3 linked regions of the Homo sapiens genome follow. The protein of the gene in region 2 interacts with the protein of the main gene of each other region in a pairwise test. Each region holds a gene or a part of one and is shown on either strand. Other genes may lie near its edges.

The links.
Region 1: the proteins of SH2B1 (region 2) and KIAA0319 interact in a two-hybrid assay, tested with the Homo sapiens proteins (one study listed by BioGRID and IntAct).
Region 3: the proteins of SH2B1 (region 2) and CSAD interact in a two-hybrid assay, tested with the Homo sapiens proteins (one large-scale study listed by BioGRID and IntAct).

The regions. Positions count from the first base shown.
Region 1 is NC_000006.12:24,643,387-24,647,541, forward strand, and holds the start of KIAA0319 (dyslexia-associated protein KIAA0319 isoform a precursor), read right to left. Parts: upstream 2,806-4,155; 5' UTR 2,387-2,805; coding exon of another isoform or gene 2,350-2,386; exon of another isoform or gene 2,241-2,349; intron 1-2,240. UniProt on the Homo sapiens protein: Involved in neuronal migration during development of the cerebral neocortex. May function in a cell autonomous and a non-cell autonomous manner and play a role in appropriate adhesion between migrating neurons and radial glial fibers.
Region 2 is NC_000016.10:28,870,270-28,873,915, reverse strand, and holds part of SH2B1 (SH2B adapter protein 1), read right to left. Parts: intron 2,137-3,646; coding exon 1,933-2,136; intron 1,727-1,932; coding exon 1,515-1,726; intron 1,383-1,514; coding exon 1,211-1,382; coding exon of another isoform or gene 1,158-1,210; intron 747-1,157; coding exon of another isoform or gene 647-746; intron 470-646; coding exon 96-469; 3' UTR 1-95. UniProt on the Homo sapiens protein: Adapter protein for several members of the tyrosine kinase receptor family.
Region 3 is NC_000012.12:53,160,424-53,163,950, forward strand, and holds part of CSAD (cysteine sulfinic acid decarboxylase), read right to left. Parts: intron 967-3,527; coding exon 850-966; intron 769-849; coding exon 704-768; intron 422-703; coding exon 340-421; intron 1-339. UniProt on the Homo sapiens protein: Catalyzes the decarboxylation of L-aspartate, 3-sulfino-L-alanine (cysteine sulfinic acid), and L-cysteate to beta-alanine, hypotaurine and taurine, respectively. The preferred substrate is 3-sulfino-L-alanine.

The sequences.
Region 1 (4,155 bases), on a different chromosome or scaffold from region 2:
TCCACATAACAAAACTGCACTTGTACACTCTAAATCTATAAAAAAAATTTTAAAAACAAATAGAAAAATAACCTACCAATTATTCTAGGCCTACTAAAGCAAAGCTCCTTCCTTGGGGGTATTAAGCTACCAGAATATTAAATTGACATGATTTTATGATTTTGATTATTATATTTATTATTGTTGCTGTTATAAAGGTGCTGCAAGGAAAAATTTATGCATTTTATGATGATTTGATATCATAAATCAGAACAAGCTTTGGACATGTCAAAATAAATCTATTTTTTAGTACCAAATTATTTTTAAGGTATGAAAAATATTTCCTGAAAAAGAACACATCTCAAAAATAACAACACTTATTGAAGCGTTACTATTAAAACATGCCAGGCAATGAGCAAAGATCTCTTAAACATATTATTGTATTTAATTCTTACAGGAATTTCGTTAAGTAGGTCCCATTGTTATCTCTATTTTACAGGTGAGGAAACTGAGCCTTAGAGGGTTTAGAGAATTTGCCAAATGTGAGACAGCCACTAAGTGGCAGAGCCACGCCCAAACCCACACCCTCTGACCTGGCAATCTGCAGCACTCCGTTCCAGAAACGGGCATACCTGGCTCTACATACAGCAGTGCCTCAATAACATAGTTTCATTCAACGTTGGTGACAAAAAAATTCCTGGCCAGGGCCACTGTCTATGTGGAGTCTGCTCATTCTCCTCATGTCTGCGTGGGTTTTCTCTGGGCTTCGGTTTCCTTCACATCCCAAAGCTGTGCATATGTCTACATGGTCCCCGTCTGAGTGAGTGGGTGTGTCTGTGAAAGTGCACCCTGTGATGGGATAGCTTCCTGGACAGGGGAGAGGGGGGGGTTCCCACTCTGAACCAGGGAGACTCTGGCTACCCATGACCTTGAACTGTAATAATTGGGTAAATAATGATCTTGTTTTTACTAATCCTTCTTAACTGTATGTATAGATCCCATTTATTTCTATGTTTAATATTAGAAGTGTTGTGGTCTTTATTTAGAAGTTTGGTGATTTTTTTATGACCAGAAATATGCTGTAGGAACTTAACTCTTGTTTATATCAATTAGCCTGTGGTAAAATTGGTTTCCTTATACCTCGTTGTGCTTAAAGGTTCACAGTTTCCAAGAACGTATCAAGAATGTTAAGTGAGGACTTACTGTATTTATTTAAAGAGAATGCTTCCTATCTATTGGCTAGGGAAAAAAAAAAAGTCAAGAAAATTTAACAGCAACTCTATTCTTTTACATTCATACATTACCAAAGCTCTCTTTTGGCTATTTTTAATTCATAAAGATTTTGGCTGAATTATTTTCATTATTTCGAAACAAAAATTAAGTTCTTGCCTCGGCATTTTGCATTACAAATGCAAATGCATTACAAATGGTTAATACAAATAAATCAGAGTACTTAGGTAATATGTTTACATTTCCCTTTTTCAAATTACAGAGGAATTCACCTTTCTCTGTGACTCCTACGTCTATAACTGAACTGACACCTCCAGTTTTCCTCATCTGAATTAAAAATAATACTAAAAAAAGCACAAAATAAAAGTTTAGATTTGGCATAACTTTAGTAGTCTCTACAATTGTGGTCTTCTTATAATAAATTGAAGCATTTGGAAAGTGAGCATGTATTTCAGGAATAAAGAAATAAATACCAACATTTACTTCCAAAATTCTTGTGTGTGGGGGGGAACATTGTCTACAATTTATTTTTTCTGTTACTATCAAAAACATCATTCAACTTTTCAATTCAAGCAGTGGAAAAAATACTAACATTTCACCGACAAACAAAAATGTTTTGATGAACAAACCAGCAATAAAAGTGCACATGAGTATGTATATCATATTTTTCCTCCTTGTATTTAATTAACAAATGACCTTAAGATGATAACTCTCAAAATTTCAGGTTTATCCTCCCGATTAATTTGTGACATTCCTTGGAGGGAATTCAAAGGGAAGAAGAGAAAGATTTTAAGCTTCAGGTTATGGTAAGGAACAGAGACAAAATGCATTTAGCAAATAATAGGAAAGATCACATAAATAGTTCTGAATGAAGTTTAAAGAAAACGATTCCTTACTTCTAAAAAAATGCAATTCGTGAGGTTGGGAAAAGACACTCAAATTTCCCCGACTCCACCCTACTAGTCAACAATCAGTGCAGCAATCAAAAAATGCCCTTTCCTGAATGCCCAGAAGAATCTTAAGAAACTCACCTTCTGAACTCAGGGCGTCTCGATTCTACTTTTGTTGGGTATTGGCCTGCCTACTGGCTGCCCTCTTTCCTATTTCTCGGCCAGGCGCTCTGGGAAGTAGATACCGTACCTGTGGTCACTGCTGGCGACACTGAAGCTCGCCCCATGCGTTGCTGCTGGCCCTGAGCATCACTCGCCGTCCCACTTGTTCCTCCTCGTCGTCATCGCAGGTCTTACACACACACACACACACACACACACACACACACACACACACACACACGTTCACACCCTCGCGCGCGCACCTGCTGTTAAGAGGTACAGCCCCACCCCAGCAAAATCCTCGCTTCCTCTTCCCCGGGACGTAGCCCCAGAGGAGCGAATCTGGACCAAGCCCAAGACAGGCTGAAGCTACTGCTGCGCTCTCACCTCCGGCAGTGACAGCGAGCGCCGCCGCCGCTCTGCGCGGGGCCAGCCAGGCCCGCCGAGGGCAGCACAGGTGGAGCAAGGTTGCACCCCCGGGGGATCCCCGCCCACCGCCCGCGGCAGCTTCTGCAGGCTCGGGGAAAGCGCGCGCCAGTGATTCAGCGCCTTTCCGCCGCCGCGGTTACCACGGCGACGCGCGCGCACGCGCACACACGCCCTCAGGGATGTGGGGCGCGGCAGCCGCCCCTGCCCAGCTCCCCTGCTCAGCTCCCCTGCTCAGCTCCCCGGTTGCGCTCTAAGTACCCGCACCGGGGCGACACACTCCCACCCCGCAGGGGACCAAGCAAAAGTCTTTCGTGAACCTGAGCGGCCTTCATACCCTACCTGCTTTCCTTCACCAAGCCCTTCCCTGTCACCGTGGCCCTAAACAGTCTGGGGGATGAACACTCCTTCCAAATAAACACCCGGGCCAGGGTGGCTCAAGGGAGCCGTGGGTGCACTGCCTGGGTCAAACACCCTTCGCGAATGTGTCCCCCAGCTTGTCCCCAGCTTGTGTCACCCCAGCTACACAAGTTCCATTCTTCCAGTGGGAGTCTCTTTGGCCCCTACTCTGTAATTATCTTTCTATTTTGAGCAGGTGCTTTCTGACTGAGACTGGGAACCTGTGCTAGGAGGGGCTCCCATCACCTCCAGGCCTTGCAGGTTAACTGGATGCCCAGTATAGTTTGACATTTGCATCTTGAGGAACGTGATAATCTAAACCACAGAAAACTTGGGTGGAAGACTCTTGCATTTTTACTGTTTTAATAAAGATGCGAAAGCATCTAGGGATAATATCATGAGCAGAAAAGGTAGCCAGGGCATTCCTCGCACATCTCATTACTAGGAGGTATAAGTGCAGTGCTTAGGGCTGAGTCACACACTGTTGATGAATAAGCTTCTTGGCTACTCGTATTTACCGAAGAGCCTCAGACAAGTTACCTAATCTAGATAAACCTGTTTCCTCAATTATAAAATGAAGATAATAGCATTCATATAGGATGATTCTGGGAATCAAATAAGATAATGCACATTTAAAGAGTAAAAACCAGCTGGGTGCGGTGGCTCACGCCTGTAATCCTAGCACTTTGGCAGGCCGAGGCGGGCGGATCACGAGGTCAGGAGATCGAGACCATTCTGGCTAACACGGTGAAACCCCCGTCTCTACTAAAAATACAAAAAATTAACCGGGAGTGGTGGCCCGCGCCTGTAGTTCCAGCTACTTGAGAGGCTGAGGCAGGAGAATCGCTTGAATCCAGGAGGCGGAGGTTGCAGTGAGCCGAGATCGTGCCACTGCACTCCAGCCTGGGCGACAGAGCAAGACTCCGTCTCAAAATAAATAAATAAATAAATAAATAAATAAATAAATAAATAAATAAATAAATAAAAACTAAAGAGTAAAAACCTGTCCAGGACTCAAAGAGTGAAAATCAGCTTGGACTTGGAAAAGTTAGTACTGCCAATGATCAAT
Region 2 (3,646 bases):
ATGGGGGAGGGATTTCGGCCTCCTCTGTCCCTACCCAGCCCAATCTCACGAGCAGGGCTGGGGGGTTTAAAAAGGGTGGAGCGGGTGGGGTTGGCTCACACGAAGGAGTACTGGTTGTTAATGGCCCTGGGGTGGCCCCCTTCCTCTCCATCACCCCCTAGTGGTGACTGCTGCAGCTGCACCATTGGGGGCACCCCCGCGTCCCCACCAGACCCAGCGCCCTGGGCCTCTGAGCCTGGGGCTATGGCCTCTTCCAATTCAACCACGGGGACCAGCTCAACCACGGGGACCAGCTCTTCCGGGACCCCTCCACCGCCCGCTTTCTCTTTCTCTTGCCTCTCTTTGGCTGCTGCGGCTGCTGCTGCCGCCACTTCTGGCGCCCTCGACGCCTCTTCTGCCCCAGGCTGTGGGGGATCTGTCCATGAAGGGGGTTCAGGGGGCTGGGGTGGGTCATGGGAGGTGGTCGGTTCTGGATAGGAATGGTAAGAAAACAGACTGATTGTGGAGGCAGGTGAGCTCCTGCCGTGGCCTCCCCTTCACTCAGCCCCCCAGGAGCGTGGCTGTCTCCCCACATCCCATCTCCTGAGCAACCCCCCATCCATGGAAGATGGATCATGGGCGGTGGTGAGAGGAGGACCACACTTACACACAGTCACTCGCTCCGAAGGGCATGAGGGTGCAGGAGGCATCGGGGTGGCATCCATCTCCCTCGCACACCCCCGCATGGCTCCCAGCCTGCTCCCGGCCTGGGGGGAGGGGCAACGTGGGGACAGATGGGACGGTGGGGCAGGGGAAAGGGAGAGATCAGACAGGGACATGAGACATTGAGGGAGGAGGGAAGGGGATCAGACCGAGTGTCCCCGGGAAGGGCAGGCCCAAGGCCAGGCTGCGACGGAGGGCAAAGACGAGGCCAGGATGGGTCCAGGAGACAGACAGACAATGGAACAGAGGATCCGATGGAATGGGGATGCGCCCGCCCACCTCTCAGCTGCCGCCCCGGCTCCGGCCAGGAGCCTTCTGCCTTCCTGTGTCCTATCAGCGCATTTCTTTCCCTTCCAAACCCCGAGGCACAACAGCCTCCTCTACCCTGCTCTCCCAAGCAAAGCTTCTCCTTGTGATAGTCCCCCCTCCCCGCCCCATCTTTCTGGCACACACACCTCACTTCTTGGGTGCACGGGCACCTCCTCCCCTGCAGACCTGCTCTGCTCACCCTGCTGTCGCTGGGAGGATGGGACATAGCTGACAAGGACAACATCACTGGAGCCTCCCGACTCCAAAGGGATGGGGTGCACCCGGAAGTGCTCGAGCATATCGAAAATGGACTGGAACCACAGGTGCTGGACCCGGCACTGACCCTCCTCGTTCAGCGACAAACGCAGGTGCTGAGGGCGGGATGGGGGAGGTGAGGTAGGAGGCAAAGGCCCTGCCAGGTACAAACCCCCTCCCCCGGCAGTGCTCCCCCACCCCACTGCCAACTATGCACAGAACAGAGCCTTTCCCACAGGGTGGCTCACCTTGGCCTTGCCCTGGAAGTTGAAGGTGAGGACGTATTCACCCCGCCTTGTCTCACTCTGGCGCACCAGGAAGACACCGTGGGAGCCAGTGCCGCCAGTCAGCACCAACTGTGCAGCCTTGAGCCGAGAGAGCATCCCGTGGAACCAAGGATACCCTGAGAGGGGCTGGTCCCCCTCACCGCCCTCTGGCTCCCCCTGGAACAGGAAGGACCCTTCAGGAAGGAGAGAGGGAGGGAAACCGGGGTGTCAGGGCAGCCTCCCCCATCCTGGGAGAAAAAAGCCTTGCCTTCCCCTCAAGGCGCCTGCTCCCCACATGCGTCCCCAACTCCCCTGGGCCAGCTCCCTCGGGATCCCAGGAGAGGTGGTCAGGAAGGTAGGCACCCAGGCCTGGAGACATGCACACTCACACCTCCGGTACCTGTGGCTGTTTCCGGAGTGTCCAAGGGAGGGTAGGGGGCTGAGAGGGGATGAACTGTCCCTGTTGGGGGTCCCTCTTCAATGGGGATGCGGGGGGGCAACTCTGGGGGAAGCAGTTCCATCGAGTCAAAATGGGAGGCGGCAATGGAGGCAGAGCTGGGGGAGATGGATGCCGAGGGGCGGTCTGAGAGGCCCCCATATGCCCCTGGAAAAAAAAAGGGCAAAGCTGAGAACCCAAGAAATTCCTCTTCTAAAGGACTGTCCTGGGCCCATCTCCTCACCAGCAGTCTACCCTGTGTGCAGTCGCTGGCCAAGATGCCAAACAGCTCTGTGGGTAGTGACCCCTGATGCTTTTACCAATGGCTCCTAACTGATGCTTCCTGCGCTGCTGAGGGACTGCAGAGTTATTGCAAGGAGGTTCTAAAGTCCCAATGTGTCTCCATCTTTTTCTGAATCAACAGCTGAAAGACTGTTGCAGAAACGGAGAGCAGAATGCCTTAAATATATATATACATGTTTTTGTAGAGAAGGGGTCTCGCTATATAATAGCCCAGGTTGGCCCTGAGTTCCTGGACTCAAGTGATCTGCCCACCTCAGCTCTGGGATTACAGGCGTGAGCCACCGTGCCCAGCTGCCTCAAATATTTTGACATTCAAAAGGAGTCCTGGGCCAGGCGCAGTGGCTCACACCTGTAATACCCGCACTTTGGGAGGTTGAGGCAGGAGGATCACTTGAGCTTAGGAGTTCGAGAGCAGCCTGGGCAACATGGTGAAACACCATCTCTACTAAAAATACAAAAATTAGCTGGACGTAGTGGTGCACACCTGTAATCCTAGCTACCTGGGAGGCTGAGGCAGAAGAATTGCTTGAACCCGGGAGGCAGAGGTTGCAGTGAGCCGAGATTGTTTCACTGCACTGCAGCCTGGGCGACAGAGCAAGCCTCTGTCTCAAAACACACACACACACACACACACACACACACACACACACGGAATTCTGGCTGCACACAGTGGCTCACGCCTGTAATCCCAGCCTTTTGGGAGGCTGAGGTGTGAGAATGACTTGAGCCCAGGAGTTCAAGACCAACTTGGGCAACATGGTGAGACCCCATCTCTTACAAAAAATAAAAAATTAGCTAGGTGTGGTGGTGGCACACGCCTGTGGTCCCAGCACCTTAAGCCGCTGACGCAGGAAGATGGCTTGAGCCAGGGAGGTCAAGGCTGCAGGAAGCTGTGACTGCACCACTGCACTCCAGCCTGGGAGACATAACAAGACCCTATCTCAAAAACAAAAACACAAACAATAATTTTTTAAAAATAAAAAAATTAAACACACAAACAAAAAAAAAAAGGTGTCCTTTGTTGAACTATAGGACAAAGCCCCTAACTCTTAAGAGGCATCAAAGATGCTCCTTCTATTACTCCCCCAACCCACACCAACTTGAGCTTTACCTTACCTTGTATTCATGTCTCTTCCACTTTAACCCAATTTCCCATCCAATTTGTCCCCATATCCTGGGCCCTCCCCGCAGGTCTCTGCTCTTGCCCTTCACGTCCCCAGGCATGTCCTCTCCTCTCCTCGGCGTCGCAGTCCCTGTCTCTCCCACCTTCCCCTGCTCTCTTCCTCCTGAGCTCCCAACGTGATTCCTGCTTGTGCTGCTCAGGGGACACTAAGCTTTCTATAGGGAGTGATGTCAACCCAGCTGAAAGCCTCTA
Region 3 (3,527 bases), on a different chromosome or scaffold from region 2:
GGAGCCAGATGGCACTGCTGGGACGGCTGCCTGCTGGCTCCAACACCTTTCTTTGGGTTTCCTCCCAATACCCAGGGTTCTTCCCAAACTCTGATGGCAACCTCAAGCTAGAAACTCCAGGATACCTCTGACTCCAACTTCAAGCTGGAAACTTTTCTTTTAAGAGAGGCCACTGGGGGAGTGAAGGAGCCTAATACAGGTTAGGGTGGTAGCTGAGATGCAGCTTCAGAAGGGATGGTAAAGAGAATAGAGAAAGGCCTGAACTTTATCTAAGGTGGGATAGAGAAGGCAGAGCTCCAGAGAGAGGTGGGGCTGGTGCAGGGGCAGGGGCAGACCCACCGAGGTATCCTGGAGAAGAAGTGCAGAGCATTGCAGGCCTGCTGCGAGGAGCTTGTGGGGATTCCAGGCCACAGAGTCAGCCCTGGATGGGGTGGAGCAAAGGCAGGTCAGTGGCTCCTCCTCCAGCTGCCCAACCAGAGCCCTTCCTCCTTTTCCAGGTCCCCAGCAAAGGGGCTTTGGTCTCACCCTCACCCCAGCATCAGGAAGAACTGCCATGTCTGACCTCCCAGCTCCAATCAATCCTCTCTCCAGTCCCCCTCCCCTCAGCCTCCTACCCCAGCCATGTTAAACTCCCTAGTCCATGATGATTCTCTGGACCAATGGTTTGAAGGGCGGGATTTGGGAAGAAGGGGACTGTATGCACCTCTGGATCCCATCCAGGAGATGCCTGTGTGTCTGTGACAGCAGGACGCTCCCACCCCAGGCAGCCTGTGGAGCAGGAGGAACAACGTGGGCCTTGGCCTTGGCTCAGCCCACCCCACCGCACCCCCAAGCCGAAGTCCCACTCACATCCACATGCAGCCATAGCCCATGACGCTGGCACACATCAGCAATTGCCTCCAGGGGGTCAAAGGCCCCTAGCACAGTGGTGCCAGAGGTGGCACTGACCAGGAACGGCACAGCACCCTGTTGCCAAAATGTAGAGGGAGAAAGATGTAAAGTCATCTCAAAAGCTACTCAGAGCCTGATGCTGGGCCCAGCTCTAAGCTCTTTGCATGCCTAAAATGGCCCATTTCAACCTCACAACAATGTGTTACTGTCCTTTTTAATGTGCAGCCAGGGACACTGAGATTCAAAGATCCAAGCAGAAGCTGCAGAGATGGACTTCGAACCTAGGTTTTCATTTCCAAAGCTCATACTCTCAAAGAACTTGAATGTTTTACTGGAAGATCCAATGCTATTGAAAAAAAATTGAGTCAGGCATAGTGGCTCACACCTATAATCTCGGCACTTCAGGAGGCCAAGGCAGGATTGCCTGAGGCCAGGAGTTCAAGACCAGCCTGGGCAAAATAGCAAGACCCCATCTCTAAAAAAATTTTTTTGTTTAATTAGCCAAGTGTAGTGGGCATGCCTGTAGTCCCAGCTACTCAGGAGGCTGAGATGGGAGGATTGCTTGAGCCCAGGAGTTTGAGGTTACAATGAGCTATGATTTTGCCACTGCACTCCAGCCTGGGCAACAGAATGAAAGCCTGCCTCAAAAAATATAAACAAATAGGCCAGGCACGGTGGCTCACACCTGTAATCCCAGCACTTTGAGAAGCCAAGGCAGGTGGATCACTTGAGGCCAGGAGTTCAAGACCAGCCTGGCCAACATGGCAAAACCCCGTCTCTATTAAAAAATACAGAAATTATCTGGGTGTGGTGGTGCACGCCTGTAATCCCAGCTACTTGGGAGGCGGAAGCCGAGGCAGAGGCATGAGAATCGCTTGAACCCGGGAGGCAGAGGTTGCACTGAGCCAAGATCACACCATTGTACTCCAGCCTGGGCAAAAGAGCAAGATTCTGTCTCAAAAATAAATAAATAGGCTGGGTACGGTGGCTCACACCTGTAATCCCAGCACTTTGGGAGGCCGACGCGGGTGGATCACGAGATCAGGAGTTCAAGACCAGCCTGGCCAAGATGGTGAAACCCTGTCTCTCCTAAAACTACAAAAATTAGCCAGGCACAGTGGCAGGCGCCTGTAATCCCAGCTACTCAGGAGGCTGAGGCAGGAGAATCACTTGAACCTGGGCAGCAGAGGTTGCAGTGAGCCAAGATTGTGCCACTGCACTCCAGTCTGGGTGACAAAGTGAAACTCTGTCTCTAAATAAATAAATAAATTTGAATAGTACAAAAGTTTATGCAGAAATTGAATTAGTAATTTTTAAAACTACTACAGCTGGATGTGGTAGCTCATGCCTGTAATCCCAGCACTTTGGGAGGCCAAGGCAGGAGAATTGCTTGAGCCTAGGAGTTCAAGACCAGCCTGGGCAACCTAGTGAGACCTCACCTCTACAAACGAAAAAAAAATACATAGGCTGGGCGTGGTGGCTTATGCCTGGAATCCCAGCACTTTGGGAGGCCGAGGCGGGCGGATCACCTGAGGTCCAGAGTTCGAGACTAGCCTGACCAACATGGAACAACCCTGTCTCTACTAAAAATACAAAATTAGCCAGGCATGGTGGCACATGCCTGTAATCCCAGCTACTCTGGAGGTTGAGGCAGGAGAATGGCTTAAACCCGGGAGGCGGAGGTTGCTGTGAGCCAAGATCACGCCATTGCACCTCAGCCTGGGCAACAAGAGCAAAACTCTGTCTCAAAAAAAAAAAAAAGAAAAAAAATAGACAGGTGTATAGGGGTGCACTCCTATAGTCCCAGCTACCTGGGAGGCTGAGGTGGGAGGATCACTTGAGCCTGGGAGATCAAGGCTGCAGTGAACCATGATTGCACCACTGCTCTACAGCCTGGTCAACAGAGTGAGGCCCTGTCTCCAAAAACAAACAAAAAAAATCTACCACAGTGGGAGTCTGAGGCAGGAGGATCACTTGAGCCCAGGTGGTCAAGGCTGCAGTGAGCCCTGATCGTGCCACTGCACTCCAGCCTCAGCAACAGAGCAAGACCCTGTCTCCATTTTTTTTAAGTTAAAAAGAAAAGAAAGGCCCAGGCAGAGATGGCTTTGCTGATGAATTCCATCAAACATTTAATGAAAAATTGGTAACAGATCACAAACTCTTCCAAAAGACAGAATATACAAAAATCAATTGTATCTCTATACACATTAGCAATGAACAATCTAAAAATGAAATTAAGAAAACAATTTCATTTACAAAAACACCAAAAAAGAATAAAATACTTAATCTATTTAACAAAAGAAGTATAAAGCATATACTCTGAAAACTACAAAACACTGTGGAAATTAAAGACCTAAATAAATGAAAATATGTTTCATGTTGATGAATGAACACAATTCCTATCAAAATCCCAGTTGCCCTCTTTGCAGAAATGGACAAGCTGATCTTAAATTCATATGGAAATTCAAGAAACCCAGACTAGCGAAAAACAATCTTGAAGAAAAGAACAAAGTTGGAGGACTCACACATCCTGATTTCAAAACATACTACAAAGCTACAGCTGAATCAAGACAATGTAGTCTACAGGATAGACATGTAGATCAGTGGAACAGAACTGAGAACCCAGAAATAACCCT